Regions from separate parts of the Homo sapiens genome. Here region 2 is linked to region 1. Evidence: fine-mapped expression QTL. A gene starts in region 1. The other region holds a variant in brackets. All regions are shown on one strand. Distances are between the middles of the regions. Region 1 holds the start of C22orf39 (chromosome 22 open reading frame 39). Region 2 overlaps HIRA (histone cell cycle regulator).

What was found. PIP is the estimated chance that this variant, and not a neighbour inherited with it, causes the effect.
Region 2: its variant is fine-mapped to the expression of C22orf39 in lung (TOPMed, PIP above 0.99).

What each region holds. Positions count from the first base shown.
Region 1 is chr22:19,443,244-19,453,569 of GRCh38, forward strand. C22orf39 (chromosome 22 open reading frame 39) reads right to left here and starts at 4,468. Exons shown (of 3, transcript NM_173793.5): 1 at 4,422-4,468; 2 at 4,135-4,302; 3 at 1-1,147. The coding sequence starts at 4,445. The coding sequence ends at 1,022. It overlaps UFD1 (ubiquitin recognition factor in ER associated degradation 1), which reads right to left. Exons shown (of 12, transcript NM_005659.7): 12 at 6,668-7,501. The coding sequence ends at 7,427. It overlaps UFD1-AS1 (UFD1 antisense RNA 1), which reads left to right and starts at 4,191. Exons shown (of 2, transcript NR_186687.1): 1 at 4,191-5,082; 2 at 8,351-8,445. RefSeq lists an enhancer at 3,664-4,566 and a silencer at 4,014-4,413.
Region 2 is chr22:19,338,609-19,346,608 of GRCh38, forward strand. The region is part of intron 24 of HIRA (histone cell cycle regulator); the gene reads right to left. The region is part of intron 5 of LOC105372859 (a long non-coding RNA gene); the gene reads left to right. Among named protein-coding and RNA genes, the nearest start is that of CLTCL1, 51 kb to the left of the region's middle. The variant G/A (reference allele first, on the strand shown) is at 3,220.

The DNA of each region.
Region 1 (10,326 bases):
GTCCAGGAAGAGAGCAGGGAGGGTGCTGGGCACAGACCCAGCCTAGCCCTCAGCATCACACAACAGGGCCACCATAGGATGAGAAACCATTCTATTAGTAATAAACAGACCTCTTCAAGAAATAGTGTTTTTGGTGGTTCATACATTTTAAAACACTTAACAAGAGAATAAGCATACAAATTTCTAATACTGTCCAGGTACAACACTGTTACACACAAAATCTAACAAGTGTGAACTTAATTTTCAGCTTCTATTTGAAATCAGATGAAATAGCTTTTGATACATTAACCACCAGGGGAAATTTTGAGGGAAGGAGTGCTTAATTCCATATGTCTTGGACTTGGATTTCTTCAGCTGAGTCCACAAACCCTCTTTATGCAAGGTTGTGTGTTCTGTAGCTGTGTGCATTTCTTAAAAACCAGAGTCTCCAGGGGCCGACCTGGGAGCCTAAGAAGTGAAGCCTGCTGGTGCAGAGGGGCCAGCAAGCCCTACCTGCTCGGCACACCTGCCTGCATGTGCAGTGGAACTGAGCGAGTGGAGCAGAGTGTGAGCACTCACAATGCTCACCAAACCTGGGACGTGGCAGGCAGTTTCCCAAGGACTAGGAAAGACATTCACAGTGGCACAACTGTTTAGCTACCTCATTATGACCCACCTGTGTGTCCACACAGGTCAGGGCTACCCTTCAGTTTACCTGAGAAGCCTAGACCTCAGGACCGCCATCTCCTATGCTACCATGCCCAGCCTGACCTGGCTGCTCACAAGTACCTGCCATAATGCTTGGCCTCCTGGAAGCTCTAAAGCGGTGCAATTGTCCTGCAGAACATCGCAGTGTCAGGGTATCCTGCATGCAGGTGAGGGGTGGGCAAGTAGGGCTAGCAATGTCCTGCTCCATGTTCCTGTGAGCAAGAGCTCACAGGGACCCACCAGACTGTGTAGGCTGGTCACAGTCCCCAGGGCTGTGCAACAGCAACTTGAAACAGACTGAGGAAGCTGCACAGGCCAATGGCAGGGATGCTTGTCACTCGTCCTTCTCCTGTGGCAGAGGGAGATGCCAGTCTGGAGGGGGGCTCTGCCTCGGGGCCCACACCAGGATGTGCTTCCGTGCAGCCCGGACTCGTGCCCGCTCGCTCTCACAGAGGGATTGCTGTGCAAATGAGACTCTAGTCACTCCCCAGGCTCTGAGCACCCTCAAGACCCCTGTACCTCCCCCCTCTCATCACCCTCTGAAACACAGATGGACAGGCAGGGCCTATGGTACACACCACTCTGCAGCACAGCTGCTTCCACCTACTATACCTTGGCGATTCTTCCATATTAGCGCACAGAGATGGAGATCATTTTTTTTCTCACAAGCTACTGTGAAAAACTACTGAATAGGTCATAATAATTTGAGGAATTTTTAAATATCTTCTCCTGGACCTCAGGGCTCAATGGCTCTGGTTGACCTCGTGAGTCTGGGGCATATTCACCTGCTGAGAGTGAGCCTGGGGGTGCTGGGTGGAGAGGAGAGAAGAGTCTGAGAGAGCAGCTGTGGGGAGCTGCAGGGAGGAGTGTGTTAGGGAGAAGGGAGGAAGACGGGGAAGAAATACATGTCCTGGGTATCCTGGAAGGGTGGGAAGAGTCCAGAGGACAGACCACCCGCCTGAGTGGTGCCACAAGTGCCACTTAACCCATCAGCTTCTCTTGGCTACTGTCTCCCAATACAGACACAAGTCAGTGTATCACAACATGGGTGACCTTTGCTGTCAGCCCTTGGTAGGTATCAGGTGCTATGTGAGCCTCTTTACACAGATAACTTAATCTGTCTACATGTCTGTCTTTGTTCAAGCTCTATTGCCTCAAATAAAATATTTTGATCGTGTTTAAAAAGCTATCAGAAATGTAGTACAGAATATTAAAGATTCCCAAATGTCCATTCCCAATGCGGCAGTTAACAGCTTCCCTGATATCTTTTTTTGGTCCACATTTTAGAGCTAACATGTTTCCCTAAAGATAGGATAATCTTTTGCTGGCTAGTCTACTTCCTGCTTTCTTTTCACTAAACAATACACTGTAGGCACTTTTCCATACCCAGGGAGATGACCGACCATTCTTTTCAAAGGCTATCTGGTATTTCACTTTGTGGAAAAAGCTATTTGGTCAAATGTCTATTAGTGAAATTTAGGTTGTTTTCAGCTTTTGCAGTATCAAAAACATAATTAGCATTCTAACTTTTAACTGTACACTGTTATCCAATTACTTCCCTGGGATAAAGTTCCAGAAGTAAAACTTAAGGTCAAAAGGTATGTATCTGACATTTACATAATCAGAACACCTGACACCCCCACCAACACTGCACAACTACCCAGAATTCTTCAAACCTCTATCAACACCACTTTCTGCTGTTACTGTCATTTAGACTTATATACCTGACACCTGGCCATTTGATTTTTTCTTTTTTTTTCTTGAGAGGGAGTCTTACTCTGTTGCCCAGGCTGGAGTGCAGTGACACGATCTCGGCTCATTGCAACCTCCGCCTCCCAGGTTCAAACAATTCTCCTATCTCAGCCTCCCGAGTAGCTGAGATTACAGGTGTTTGCCACCATGCGTGGCTAATTTTCGTATTTTTAGTAGAGATGGGGTTTCGCCATGTTGCCAGGCTGGTCTCAAACTCCTGACCTCAGGTGATCTGCCCACCTCGGCCTCCCAAAGTGCTAGGATTACAGGCATGAGCCACCATGCCCAGGCTTTTCTCCTTTTTTATTATTTTTATAAAGATGGAGTCTCACCATGTTGCCCATGGCTGGTCTCAAGCTCCTGGGCTCAAGCGATCCCCTTGCCTCGGCCTCCCAAAGTGCCGAGATTACAGGTGCCCACCACCATGCCCAGCTGGCTTTCTTTTTTAATGAATTGCTTCTTTGTGTCCTTTGGCCATTTTTCCATTCTGAAATAATCCCTATATTTCTTATTGATATATATATAACAGCTCTTTATACACACACACGCACATATATATACATTAAAGTTATCAATCTCTTGCTATATAAGCTGTCAGCTTTCTTACTTTTTTTGACTTTCACATATTATGGAATAGTCATCATTTTCTTTTATACAGCAGTCTGGTTTCCACATCAGTTCATCTCTTTCAGATCACTGTATACACTTAATAATGTTGAAGTGTTGATCAGTCCCATTGATTCTCATTCCTTGGCACTCCCCATGAGCCTCGCACCTTTCGGCTGGCTTCTCTCCATCTCCTCTCCCACAAGGGGTCCACCGTAGCACTGTATTCTACACTACAGTGTGGGTGCCAGGAGGGCAGAGACTCTTCTTATCACTCGTGCATCCCCAAGAGCACCCAATGTGGTACATATTTGCTGGACGAAAAAACAACTAGAACCACCTCCTTACCGGTCTCTCTGCTCCTGTAATATATTCTCTACACCCTAGCAAACAGATTGAACTTCTTTTACCCTCTCTCTTTTTTTTCCCCCCTGAGACAGGTCTCCCTCTGTTATCCAGGCTGGTGTGCAGTGGTGTGACCATAGCTCACTGCAGCTTTGAACTCCTGGGCTTAGGCGATCCTCCCGCCTCACCCTCCCAAGTAGCTGGGACCACAGGTGCACGCCACCACACTTTGCTAACAGACTGATCTTTTAAAGATATAAATCGAATTATGCCTCCCAGCACACTTTAGACTAAACTCTAAACTCCGTATCAAAAGGCCCGCCAGGTCCCTGGTATACCGCTCTCCAACCATCCACCTACCCTCTGCTTCAGGAACCCAGGCCTTATCTGTTTCTCAGCGGTGTCTACCGGGGCTGGATGAAGGCTGGCTCCTGGTCACTCAGGACTCAGCAACATCACCTCCTGCGTAGGCCAGCTGATGACCCTAACACCGGACGGCTGCCCTCTTCCCTCTCTAAACCACTCTACACCCCCTCCTCGCTGGTCTCCTCCTTTGTCTTTCACGCCCTCTGAAAGTCCTGTTGATATGCTAATTTACACAATCTCTCAAAAGAAAGGAAGCGTGAGGAGGATAGGGACCCCGTCAGTCCCCGGCTAGGTCGCGGGGCATGGGGCGTGGAGGGGTGGGGAAAGCTGGGCCCCGCAAGGCGCTCCGAAGCGCCGCCCCGCTCCCTCCCGGCGCACCTGGGCCTCGGCGTTCCGGCGCTCCTCCCAGTCGCGGCAGCTGGCCAGGTCGCGCTGCCACTGTTCGCAGGCCGGCCGCTCGCCGTGGACGTAGTAGTGGTGTAGGAAGTGCCTGGCGCTGCGGCAGAGCTTCCACTCGGCGCGGTAGGCCTCGCAGGGGCGCGGCGGCTGCGGCGAGAGGCGGCGCCTGAGCGGGGCCCGGCGGCCGCGCCCTACGCCCCGAGCCAGTCCCGTTCCCTCCCTCCGGAAGACCCCGGTGGTTCCCGGCTCCGACCCAGCACACTCACCTGCCAGCCGCTGCCGTCCGCCATGTCTGGGCGACCGGCGCGCCAAGCCCGCCCCTCAGTCCGCCAGCCAATGAAAAATGAAGAAAACGGCACCTCGTGATCGACTGACAGAAGAACTAATGAGCACCGACACATTCAATCACGTCTTCGCCCCCTTCTTCGAGAAGCGCCGACAAACAGGACGAGCAACCAATAGCAACCGAGGGCGGCTGCGGCGCGCGCGGAGGGCCGGGGTCGCAGGGTAAATCCGGGGCGAGACCTGGCGCGAAGCCTACGCGACCACCGCGACGACAGCGCCATTCACCCCGGGCCAGGCGGGCATCCTGGGCCGCGCAGCTACCTTACGTCAGCCGCCTCTCAAATCACACGGCTCTGGCCAGTTCTTTTCAGCAGCTTTATGAGATTTTCTCAAATCTCAACAATCCGGTATATTTTCAAAAGTACATACTGAGCATCAAGGTGGTGCAGCGAACCTCCCAGATCTGCAGCTCCAGCAGTCTTGCTTGAGCGTCCACTCAGGATGGAGGTGAACTCGCAAAGTAACTGAGATTGGTTGGGCATGACATATGGTGGATCTAGGGTTGAATGACCTCCCCAGGGAACGCAGGCTTGAAGTGGAGGCTGAGAATGCAATCCGAGTACAGCCATAGGCCGGTCAAAGGTATGGAGGCGGTGTGTAGCAGGGGTGAGCGGGGTAGGAGTGGCTTGGATGTCTGTAGTTCTATTCTAAGGGTGCGGGAGACATGTAACATTTACCTTATTCATTTTTCGAGACAGGGTCTTGCTGTGTCACCCAGGCTTAGTGCAGTGGCGTGGCGTGTTCATGGCTTACTGCAACCTCAAACTCCTGGACTCCGAACAGCTGGGACCAAAAGCATGCACAGCCTCACCAGGCTAATTTTTAATTTTTTTTTTTTTTTTTTGTAAAGATGGGGTCTTGCTAAGTTACCCAGGCTAGTTTGGCCTCAAGCGACCCTCTCACTTTGGCCTCCCAAAGTGCTAGGATTATAGGCGGAGCGCCAGTGCCTGGCTGGGACGTTTATAAAAAGGAGCAATGCACAAGAGGCAACAAAGGCAAGTAAAGAGGAGGCTGGTGGGCTTGCAGAAACGCCCTGCAGTACCTATGCTGCGGTTCTCCCACTTCACTGATAACAAATCCTCAGTATCCACTGATACAAATCCTGGGACTGCTGGGCCAGTCCCAGGAATGACACTGGGACAGACTCCCTGGAGGTGGATCAGAAAGCTGCAGTTTTACCAGGGGTCCTGCTGTTGAGGCAGCCGGCTCAAGGACCAAGCCCAAATAAGACACTGAGAGGAAGGCTGCAGGCCAGGGTGCAGGAGTAATGACCAGGATCAGTGCTCCAACTGGCCCCACTGTGTCATTAAAAGGCTCTGCAATGGAATCCATCCTGGTCCAGGCAGGGGAGTGTGCCTCCAGCAAAGGACCAGGCGTTTCACTGCATACACAGCAGGTGTTGCTTAGTGAAGACAAAAACCCAGAGCCAGAGGTACTGTAACATTCTTCATTATGCATAAAGTGACAGTCTGTTAGCTGATGTGATCCTGCAAATGAAGGCTGTCTACCCACCAAGGGTTTCTCCCTCTGCTAGTAAAACTGAGACTTTGTCAGTGGAGGCTCAGGTAAGTCCCCACAGTGCTCATGCCTTCCAAAACCACGCCCATTTCCAGTGATGATGGTTTGTGCCACAGGCCAAGTACTGAACATCATGACACTCATAGACACTCTTCACTGAAGACGTGGATAGACCCTGGGGCCACCATTCTCTCCTCTCTGGAGTGTTGGAGGGGCCCTGACCAGGGCAGGACCCCCATGTCTGGAAGCAGGGTTAGCCCTGGCTCATGGGGGACCCTGCTGGGCTTAGCCATTGCCACCTAGGGATCAGGCAGCCTTGTTTCTTCCTACTTTCTCCAGGAGAAGCCCCAGAGGGACACTTTTCTAATGGTGAGATGGAACACGGAGCACCTGCCAACAGGCCTTCAGTTATGGTCAGAGGCCCAACCACCAGTCTGTGTTAGTACCTAATCAAACATTTAGATTTAGGCTTTAGTTATTGCCTGTTTTTACTTGAAATTCTTGGCTTAGAATTATTCCCAATGGGGCCAGGCACAGTGGCTCATGGGAACAAATTTAAAATAATCAGATTAGCATGTCAAAAGATCTCACGTTATAGAAAGTGAAGATCTAAGACCAAATAAATACTGATAAAAAATACAGGCCAGCAGAAGCTTGGATGATTTAATAAATTAAAATTGGGAGTTGGGGAGTAGGGAAGAAGGAGAGGAACATCTCTTTAGCATTTGTTCATTCTAACATTCACATGTTTGCTTCTCCATGGAGTTGTTTCACTATGAACAGGTTCACTAAGGAGCCAGTTATGTCCATATGAAATGAGAATAAAAGTGCAAACTCATTCAGATCAGGTTCTTCTGAGTGGTGTTTTTGAAAAAAATATGTAAAATAAAAATAGAAACATTCTTTGTCAAATACTTAAATTGCAGCCACAGTAGTGGGACAGCCACTACTTATAGAACACATGTCTATTTAAAGCCTTTTTTTAGGCCAAAGACTGACACCTATGCAATTGATGTAGGAAAAGAAAGGATAAATGAAGAAAAAGAAAGAACACTTCATGTTAGACAATTTAGTCACCTTCATAGGTTTTGACAGAATTAGGGATGCAGAATTGCTCCTGCTGAGGCAGTGGGAGCTCCCCTCAAGCTGAAAGCGTGAAGAGGTGAGGAGGCAGCTATCTACAGGCCCTCAGGGACAGCTCTTTGTCTTTCCCCAAATCAAGCATACAACTACAAAGTCCTGCTGCTCCACTTCCAAGTCAAACTTAATAATTCTTAGGTAACTCTAAATAAATCTTAAGTAACAGAGTATTCTCTGATGAGGCTCGTCCCTGTCAGTGCCAGTAACTAAAAGCCAAGATGTTGCAAATGATTCTTTTATTATTTTCCAATCAGCCAACAGTCCTCACTTAGGGCTTTCTTCCCTTTTTACGCAATGACTGTCCTTCTCCAGAGAAAGCGACGAATCTGCCTCCAGCTTCATCCTAGGTTTGAAGAGAAGATACTATTTTCAGAAACTCCCTGGAGGTTTACAATAAATGCCTTACTCTATGGACTCACGTACCATCCACATTACTCATAAGAAATATCTCAGGCTGGACACGATAGCTGACACCTGTAATCCCAGCACTTTAGGAGGCCTAGGTGGGAGGATCACTTGAGCCCAGGAGTTCAAGACCAGCCTGGGCAACATAGTGAGATCCCATCTCTACCAAAAATAGCTCAGTGTGGTATGTGCCTATGATCCCAGCTACTTGGGAGGCTGAGACGGGAGGATGGTTTGAGCCAGGGCCATAGTGAGCTATGATTGTGCCACTGCTCCAGCCTGGATGGCAGAGCAACAGAGCAAGACCCTGCCTCAAAAAAAAAAAAAAAAAAAAAAGTCTGTAAGTTCATCACCCAAAAACATTTCAGGTCACTTTTCTGTACATGCTTAAAGAATTGTTTTCCCACTTAATTCTGAAATCTCATGCCAATAAACTTCCTGTCTAGTATACTCCCAAGGCTACAGAACTGAATTCTGTAAAAAAGAATTCCATGATGTAGGAGGGCCAGTTTTCTACCAGTGGACATTGTTGTGGTAAGCAGCTTAATGTATTTGCACACAACTCTGATTTTTTTTAGAGCTCAAATTCCTGGGTCAAAGTGTGTACACACTTTTAATGCTTTTAACATATAGAGACCAACCAGCCCTCAGAAACATTCCACTAAGCTATCCTTCCATCAGCAGAAAGAGGGATTGTTTTTTCCCAAACCTTTGAAAACTGCACATATTTTTTTTCACATGCTTTTATTGCTAGTCAGTCTGAGGCATTATCTCAACTTTTCCCTAGGAAGAAGAGGATTCTGGAATGTTCAACACACATCCCTGCACCTGGCTCCCCACTAACTGTAGCATGTTATACCTGCAATAGAGCACTGTTTAGTATTTATGTGGTCACATTCATGTAAATTTGAGTCACAGCTGCATTTAGTCTTCCTTTGCCGCACAGCCTTCCATTCATCCTGGTGTCAATAGCTGTGTTTGGCTTCTTCCTCTATTCAATCACAGCCTGCATTGCATGGAGTTCATCTGTTTTGACAAACCTGTGTCTCCTGGGCCTTCGCCCTGCCGTACCTGGACTGGCCTTTCTCTAGGTGCCGTACATGTTAGTGGGGGCTCCTTATTTCCTGGATTCTATGACTTTCTTATTTCTACCTTATTCCTTCATTTTAGTGAGGAACACCTCCTAGGAGCTTCCTGAGAAAAGATGCATGAGGATTATCTTCTTGTGAGTTCCTTTTTTCTAATCTCATATTTCATTGATAGGCTGGTTGGTATGTTAGTCTGCTAGGGCTGCCATATAAAATGCCAAAGATAGGGTGGCTCAAACAACAGAAATTTATTCTTCATAGTTTTGGAGGCTAGAAGTGCAGGATCAAGGTGTCAGCAGGTTTGGTTTCCTCTGACACCCTTTTCCTTGGCTTGCAGATGGCTGCCTTCTTGCTGTGTCCTCACATGGCCCTTCCTATGTCCAAATTTCCTCTTCTTAAAAGGACACCAGATTGAATTATGGCCAACTCTAATGGTCTTATTTTAACTTAATTGCTTCTTTAAATGGCCCTATCTGAGTTACTGGGGGTTAGGGCTTCAACACAGAAACACTGGAGGGACACAATCCAGCTCATAAGAGTTGGTACAGAATTTTAGGTTGGAAAAAATTTCCCCTCAGAATTTTGAGTATATTGCTCCACTATCTTCTAGTTTCCTCTGTGTCCTGCTAAGATGATGTCCCTTTTTTTGGGAGACAGGGACTTACTGTTACCCAGGCTGGAGTGCAGTGGTGTGATCTCAGCTCACAGCAGCCTCCACCTCCCAGGCTCAAGTGATGCTCCCAACTCAGCATTAAAGTAGCTGGGACTATAGGTGCGTGCCACCATGCTTGGCTAATTTTTAAAATTTTCTGTAGAGACAGGGTCTCCCTATATTGCCCAGGCTGGTCTCAAACTCCTGGGCTCAGATGATCTTCCCGCATCAGCCTCCCAAAGTGTTGGGATTACAGGTGTGAGCCATGGCGCTTGGCTGATGATGTCCTTAATGCATGGTGATACCTCTGTTCTCTCTCTAGAAGCTTTAGGATCTTTCTTTGCCTCAAAGTGGGGCTATTTTCATTCATTTTGCTGGAACTCAGTGAGCCCTTCAAATCTGCAAAATTGTGCCCATCTTTGGGGAAACTATTTCCCTGATGATTTCTGCTCCTTTGGTTTCTGTGGCTGTTCTTCCCACAAATCCTCTATTATTTAGATGCTGGAATGGAAAGCTTTCTGACTGTGGCCTTCACTTCAGAGATAGTAGTCTAGAGACCTACTGGAGTCGAGCCTCCAGCCTTCTGGGATGGGGGAGGGAGGGTAATGCAGCTCTAACTGCTTAGTAACAGAATTCTGTCTTTAGTCCCTCATTTCTAGAGGTGCCTTTTGAGAATTCCACAATCTACACAGAACTGCTTCTAGGCTTTCTATGGTCTACTAAGGTACCTGGGGCTTCCAAAGCCTTGTAGTTGCCTCCTCTTCCACTGTCTTTCTTACCTCATGACCTTTAGCCACAGCCTTAGTGGGGCTGCAGGATGGAATAGAGCTAAATATGTCTTCAATCCCATCTTTAAACATATACTTCTTAAATACATATTTATGGTCAAACAGGCCTGCTGTGCCCACTGGCCTCCCCTGCCTTCTGTAAATTTGCAACAGTCAGGTCACAGTCAGCCTGGGGGACGTCCCATGCTAAGGTCTTAGGTCGGAGTCAGGCACTGGCTTTTAGTGAGAAAGGCAG
Region 2 (8,000 bases), 110 kb before region 1:
AAGGGGTGAAAAAAGATATTCCATGCAAATACAAACCAAAAGCGAGCAGAAATAGCTATTCTTATATCAGACAAAACAGACTTTAAAGCAACAATAGTTGAAAAAGACAAAAAGGGACATTACATAATGATAAAAGGATCAGTCCAACAGGAAAATATCACAATCCTAAATATATATGCACCTAGCACGGGAGCTCCCAAATTTATAAAACAATTAGTACTCAACGTAAGAAATGAGATACACAGCAACACAGTAACAGCGGGGACTTCAACACTAGACAGGTCATCAAGACAGAAAAGCAACAAAGAAACAATGGACTTACACTATACCCTAGAACAAATGGACTTAACACATATTTACAGAACATTCTACCCAACAACTGCAGAATATACATTCTTTTCATCAGCACATGGAACATTCTCCAAGAAAGACCATATGATAGGCCACAAAACAACTCTCAATAAACTTAAGAAAATCGAAATTATATCAAGTACCCTCTTAGACCACAGTAAAATAAAATTGGAAATTAACTCCAAAAGGAACCCTCAAAACTATACAAATACATGGAAATTAAAAAATATGCTCCTGAATGATCTTTGGGTAAACAATGAAATCAAGATGGAAATTAAAAAGTTTTATGAACTGAATAATGACACAGCTTATCAAAACCTCTGGGACACAGCAAAAGTGGTGCTAAGAGGAAAGTTGATAGCATTAAATGCTTACATCAAAAAGTATGAAAGAGGCCAAGCACGGTGGCTCGTGTCTGTAATCCCAGCAATTTTGGAGGCCAAGGCAGGAGGATCACTTGAGGTCAGGAGTTCAAGACCAGCCTGGCCAAAATGCCAAAACCCCGTCTCTATCAAAAATAGAAAAAAATTAGCTGGGTGTGGTGACGCATGCCTGTAGTCCCAGCTACTTGGGAGGCTGAGGCCTGAGAATTGCTTGAACCTGGGAGGCAGAGGTTGTAGTGAGCCGAGATGCACCACTGCACTCCAGCCTGGGCGACAGAGCGAGACTCCGTCTCAAAAAAAAAAAAAAAAGATCCAATTAAGCTAAATTAGAAACAAAATGAAAGATATTACAACTGATACCACAGAAATAGAAAAGATCATTCAAGACTACTATGAACACCTTTATGCACACAAACTAGAAAATCTAGAGGAAATGGATAAATTCCTGGAAATATATAACCCTCCTAGATTCATTCAGGAAAAAATAGAAACTTTGAACAGACCAATAATAAGTAGCAAGACTGAAACAGTAATTTAAAAATTGCCAACAAAAAAACAGTCTGGGACCAGATGGATTCACAGCTGAATTCTATTGAACATTCAAAGAAGAATTTGTACCAATCTTACTGAAGCTATTACAAAAGACAGAGAAAGAGGGAATCTCCCTAAATCACTCTATGAAGCCAGTATCACCCTAATACCAAAACCAGGAAAGGACATAACAAAAAATGAAATCTACAGACCAATATCCCTGGTGAACATAGATGCAAAAATCCTCAACAAAATACTACCTAATCGAATCAAATGGTGTATCAAAAAGATAATACACCATGATCAAGTGGGTTTCATACCAGGGATACAGGGAAGACTTAACGTACACATGTCAATAAATGAGATACATCACATAAACAGAATTAAAAACAAAATCATATGATCATCTCAATAGATGCCGAAAAAGCATCTGACAAAATCTAGCATGCCTTCGATTAAAGCCCTCAGGAAAACCGTCATAGAATGGAAATACCTCAAGGTAATAAAAGCCACTATGACAAACTCACAGTTGACTTTATACCGAAAAGGGAAAAGATAAAAGGGTTCCCCCTGAGAACTCTAACAGACAAGGATGCCCACTGTCACCACTGCTATTCAACATTGTACTGGAAGTCCTAGCCAGAGCAAACAGACAAGAGAAAGAAATAAAGGGCATCCAAATATGTAAAGGGGAAGTCAAAATATCGCTGTTTGCCAATGATATGATCGTATACCTAGAAAACCCTAAAGACTCATCCAAAAAGCTCCTAGATCTAATAAATGAATTCCGTAAACTTTCAGGGTACAAAATCAATGTACACAAATCAGTAACACTGCTGTATACCAACAATGACCAAGCTGAGAATCAAATCAAGAACCTCTTGTTACAATAGCTGCAAATAAAATAAAATAAAATACTTCGGAATATACCTAACCAAGGATGTGAAAGATCTCTACAAGAAAAACTGAAAAACTGATTGCTGAAAGAAATCATAGACAACACAAATAAATGGAAACACATCTAAAGCTCATGGTAGGTAAAATTAAAAATGACCATACTGCTAAGAGCAATCTACAGATTCAATGCAATTCCCATCAAACTACCATGATTATTCTTCACAGAACTAGAAAAAACAACCCTAAAATTCACAAGAAACCACAGCAGGGTGTGGTGGCTCACGCCTGTAATTCCAGCACTTTGGGAGGCTAAGGTAGGCAGATCACTTGAGCCCAGGAGTTCGAAACCAGTCTGGGCAACATGGCGAAACTCTGTCTCTACAAAATATACAAAAATCAGCTGGGTGTGGTGGCTCACGTCTGTAATCCCAGCACTTTGGGAGGCTAAAATGGGCAGATCACTTGAGCCCAGGAGTTCGAGACCAGCCTAGACAACATGGTGAAACCCTATCTTTACAAAACATACAAAAATTAGCCGGGTGTGCTGGCACATGCTGTAGTCCCAGCTACTCAGGAGGCTGAGGTGCAGGATCACTTGAGCCTTGGAGGCAGAGTTTGCCATGAGCCGAGATTGTGCCACTGCACTCCAACCTGGGTGACAGAGTGGGACCCTGTTTCAAAAAAAAAAAAAAAAAAAAAAAATCATATGGAACAAAAGAGCCCAAATAGCCAAAGCAAGATAAAGCTGGAGGCATCACATTACCCGACATCAAACTATACTACAAGGATATAGTTACCACCAAAACAGCATGGTACTGGTATAAAAATAGGCAAACAGACCAATGGAACAGAATAGAGAACCCAGAAATAAAGCCAAATACTTACAGCCAACAGATCTTCAACAAAGCAAACAAAAATACAGAGTGGGGAACAAACACCCTATTCAACAAGTGGTGCTGGGATAACTGGCAAGCCACATATAGAAGAATGAAGCTGGATCCTCATCTCTCATCTTATACAAATATCAATTCAAGATGGATCAAAGACTTAAATCTAC[G/A]ATCTGAAACCACAACAATTCTAGAAGATAACATCGGAAAAACTCTTCTAGACATTGGCTTAGGCAAATAGTTCATGACTACGAACCCAAAAGCAAATGCAACAAAAACAAGGATAAAGAGATGGCACCTAATTAAACTTAAAAGCTTCTGCACAGCAAAAGAAATAATCAGCAGAGTAAACAGACAACCCACAGAGTGGGAGAAAATATTTGCAAACTATGCATCTGACAAAGGACTAATATCTGGAATCTACAAGGAACTCAAACAAATCAGCAAGATAAAAACAAATAACCCCATTAAAAAGTGGACAAAGAACATGAATAGACAATTCTCAAAAGAAGATATACAAATGACCAACAAACATATGAAAAAAATGCTCAACATCACTAATTATCAGGGAAATGCAAATCAAAACCACAATGACATACCACCTTACTCCTGCAAGAATGGCCATAATTAAAAAATAAAAAAAATAGATATTAGCATGGAGGTGGTGAAAAGGGAACACTTTTACACTGCTGGTGGGAATGTAAACTAGTACAACCACCGTGGAAAACAGTATGGGGACTCGTTCTGGAGATGGAGTCTCACTCTGTCACCCAGGCTGGAATGCAGTGGCACGATCTCGGCTCACTGGAACCTCTGCCTCCTGGGTTCAAGTGATTCTCCTGCCTCAGCCTCCTGAGTAGCTGGGACTATAGGCATGCGCCACCATGGTTGGCTAATTTTTTGTATTTTTAGTAGAGACAGGGTTTCACCATGTTGGCTGTGCTGGTCTTGAACTCCTGACCTCAGGTGATCTTTCCGCCTCAGCCTCCCAAAGTGCTGGGATTACAGGCATGAGCCACTGCACCTGGCCAGAGATTCCTTAAAGAACTAAAAGTAGAACTACCATTTGATCCAGCAATCCCACTACTGTGTATCTACCCAGAGGAAAAGAAGTCATTATGTGAACAATACACTTGTACACACGTTTATAGCAGCACCATTTGCAACTGCAAAAATACGGAACCAGTCTAAATGCCCATCAACCAATGAGTGGATAAAGAAAATGTGGTATATATACACCATGGAATACTACTCAGCCTTAAAAAGGAATGAAATAATGGCATTCACAGCAACCTGGATGGAGTTGGAGACCATTATTCTAAGTGAAGTAACTCAGGAATGGAAAACCAAACATTATATGTTCTCACTTATAAGTAGGAGCTAACCTATGAGGATGCAAAGGTATAACAATGATGTAATGGACTTTGGGGACTCAGGGGGAAGGGTGAAGAGGGTGAGTGATAAAAGACTACACATTGGGTACAGTGTACACTGCTCAGGTGATGGGTGCACTAAAATGTCAAAAAAAGAAAAAAAGCAACTCATGTAAATAGGATATTCAATAAGATTATCAGCATAGTCAGTGGGATGACATATTCAAAAGAAAGAAAGAGGCCAGGTGCAGTGGCTCACACCTGTAATCCCAGCACTTTGGGAGGCTGAGGTAGGTGGATTGCTTGAGCTCAGGAGTTTGGGACCAGCCTGGGCAACACAGCAAAATCCCACCTCTACCAAGAAAAAAAATAAAAATAAAAAATTTGCCAGGCATGGTGGCGCACATCTGTGGTCCCAGCTACTCAGGAGGCTGAGGTGGGAGGCCCACTTGAGCCTGGGAGGTGGAGGTTGAAGTAAGTCGAGATTACACCAATGTACTCCAGCCTGGGTGGCAGAGTCAGACTCTGTCTCCAAAAATCTACAACATCGTGGAAGTTGGAAAACACACTGTTATTTTAAATTTCATGTATTTTTATAAAAACAGATGGAGTTGGTTGGGTGTGGTGGCTTACACCTGTAATCCCAACACTTTGGGAGCCTGAGACGGGTGGATTGATTGAGCCTAGGAATTTGAGACCAGCCTGGGCAACATGGAGAAAACCCCATCTCTACAAAAGATACAACAATTAGTTGGGTGTGGTGGTGCACGCCTGTAATCCCAGCTACTCGGGAGGCAGAGGCAGGAGGATTGATTGAGCCAGAAGGTTGAGGCCACAGTGAGGGGAAAAAAAAAAAAGAGAGAGAGAGAGAGAGTCTTGCTATGTTGCTCAGGCTGGTCTCGAATTCCTGACCTCAAGTGATCTTCCCACCTCAGCTTCCCAAAGTGCTGGGATTACAGGTGTGAGCCACCACGCCTGGCTGAAAAAACACACTATTAAACAAAGTGAGACAAATGAAAATGAAAATACAACATACCAAAACTTACAGTATGCAGTGAAAGCTGATCTCAAATCAATAATCTAACATTACACCTTAAGGAACTAGAAAAAGAACTATACCTAAAGCTAGCAGAAGAAAATAATAAAGATAATGGGACAAGATAAATGGAAAATAATAGAGATAATCAATGAAACCAAAAGTTGATTCTTTGAAAAGATGAACAAAATTGACAAACTTTTAGCTAGACTACATAATAAAAAGAGAGACAAGATCCAAATAATGAAAATCAAAAATGAAAGCAGGGACATTACAACCAATGCCACAAAAATAAAAAAGATTATAAATAAGAGAACAGCATGAACAACTATATGACAATAAATCTGATAACCTACATAAAATGGAAACAACTTACCAAGACTGGCTCATAAAGAAATTAAAAATCTGGACGGATCTCTAATGAGCAAGAAAACTGAATCAATAAAACAAACCCTCTCATAAAGAAAAGCCTAGGATCATATAGCTTCTCTGATGTATTCTACCAAACACTTAGAGAATTAACACCAATCCTCCTTCCAAAATAGGTAGGAACACTTCCTATTTCATTCTATGAGGACAGCATTACCCTGACAAAGCTAGACAAAGATACTACAAGAAAACTATTAGATCAATATCCTTTGTAAACAGTGACCCAAAAATCCTCAACAAAATGCCAGCAAACAGAATTCCAAAGTACATTAAAAGAATTATACACCATGACCAAGTGGGATTTATTCCTTGAATGCAAGAATGGTTTAACATATGAAAACCAATCACTGTAATACATCACATTAATGAAATAAAAGAAAATTTTAAAATGACACGATCATCTTAATGCAGAAAAAGCATCTGAGAAAATGCAACATTCTTTCTTGATAAAAGCACTCAACAAACTAGGAATGGAAGAAAACTATCTCGACATAGTAAAGACCATAAATAAAAAGCCCACAGCTAACATCGTACTTAATGGTAAAAGACTAAAAGCTTTTCCTTTAATATCAGGAACAAGAGAAGGATGCCTGCTTCCAGCACTAATATTTAACGTAGTATTAAGAGTCCTAGACAGATCAATTAGGCAAGGAGAAGAAATAAAAGGCAACCAAATTGGGAAAAAAGAAGTAAAATTATTTCTGTTCACAGATGACATGATCTTATATATGGAAAACCCTAAAGATTCAGCGAAAAACTACTATAAACAAAGCAAAACATTCTGCCTGCCTGTGGTACTAGGAAGAAGCTGCAAGAGGACTTGCCCTCTGGCCTGAAGGCAATGTAAAGAGCAGCCAAGTATTATTGATATTTCCTCACCCTTCGGCTCTCAGTAAAGGATGGTTTTTCCACTCTTTCAGGATGCGATGTATAGCTCTTTGTACAGCCTGCAACACACAACTTAATCACCACCTCTCTGGCCACTGCCACAGGTCTTACAGCAGCAGTCCCCAACCTTTTCGGCACCCAGGACTGGTTTTTTTTTATGGACCAGTGGGGGAGGGGAAGACGGTTTCAGGATAAAACTGTTCCACCTCAGATCATCAGGCATTAGATTCTCATAAGGAGCACACAACCTAGATCTCTCATATGTGAAGTTCACAATAGGGTTTGTGCTCCTATGAGAATTTAATGTTGCTGCTGACTGGTCTGTGGCCCAGAGGTTGGGGACCCCTGTCTTACACTGAAGACCACAGCAAAGGGAGGCTTCCTAAGAACAGGGCCTGGCTGGGGAGGCTGGAGCCAGAACAAAGCCCAGGAACCTGAAAGGTGTTTGCTTAGTGCCCCAACCTTCTGCTTCTCATTTTCCTCCCATGCACACTGAACCATGCAAAGGATCCTTGAAGTTGAAAGAAATCTGAACCTTTGGTGTCCCTGTGGTGCACTGGCAGCTCAAATCAGAGTATATAAAGAGCTCCTATAATATACATAGAGTTCCTACAAACCATTGAGAAAAACAAATGGCAACAAGTATTTCAATAGATAGTTCAAAAAAGGGAAACACAAGCGGCTCTTAAGCATGTGAAATGATGCTCTCCTAACAAGCCTTCTTGGGAGGGCTGCTGAGTCAGCATGGCTGGTTGGAAGTCCACCCTCCAACCACAGCTATATTTTCCCAGTTATTTGAAGGATCAGTTCCACTTGAATGACCAATTCTCACCATAAATGTTGATAAATAAGGCCAGGCACGGTGGCTCACGCCTGTAATCCCAGCACTTTGGGAGGCTGAGGTGGGCCACTGCATTCCACACTCCAGCCTGGGTGACAGAGAGAGACTTCGTCTCAAATAAACACATAAATAAAATAAAAGAGTGTTGATAAATAAACCCAAGAAGAGCACAGAAGGCTCATGCTCACTCATCTCCTCTGCCCCAACATCTAGATGAAAAGACAGTAAACATACAGAAAAAAAGGAACAAATTCAGAATAGTGTTGAGATCAGGAGAGGACCTGGCAGAAGACACTGGGATTGGCTATGTCTACGTCTGCTCTAAATCCTCTTCTCTTACATATTCTTTGTACAGAGGGAGAAAACCTGCTCATTTTCCCAGCC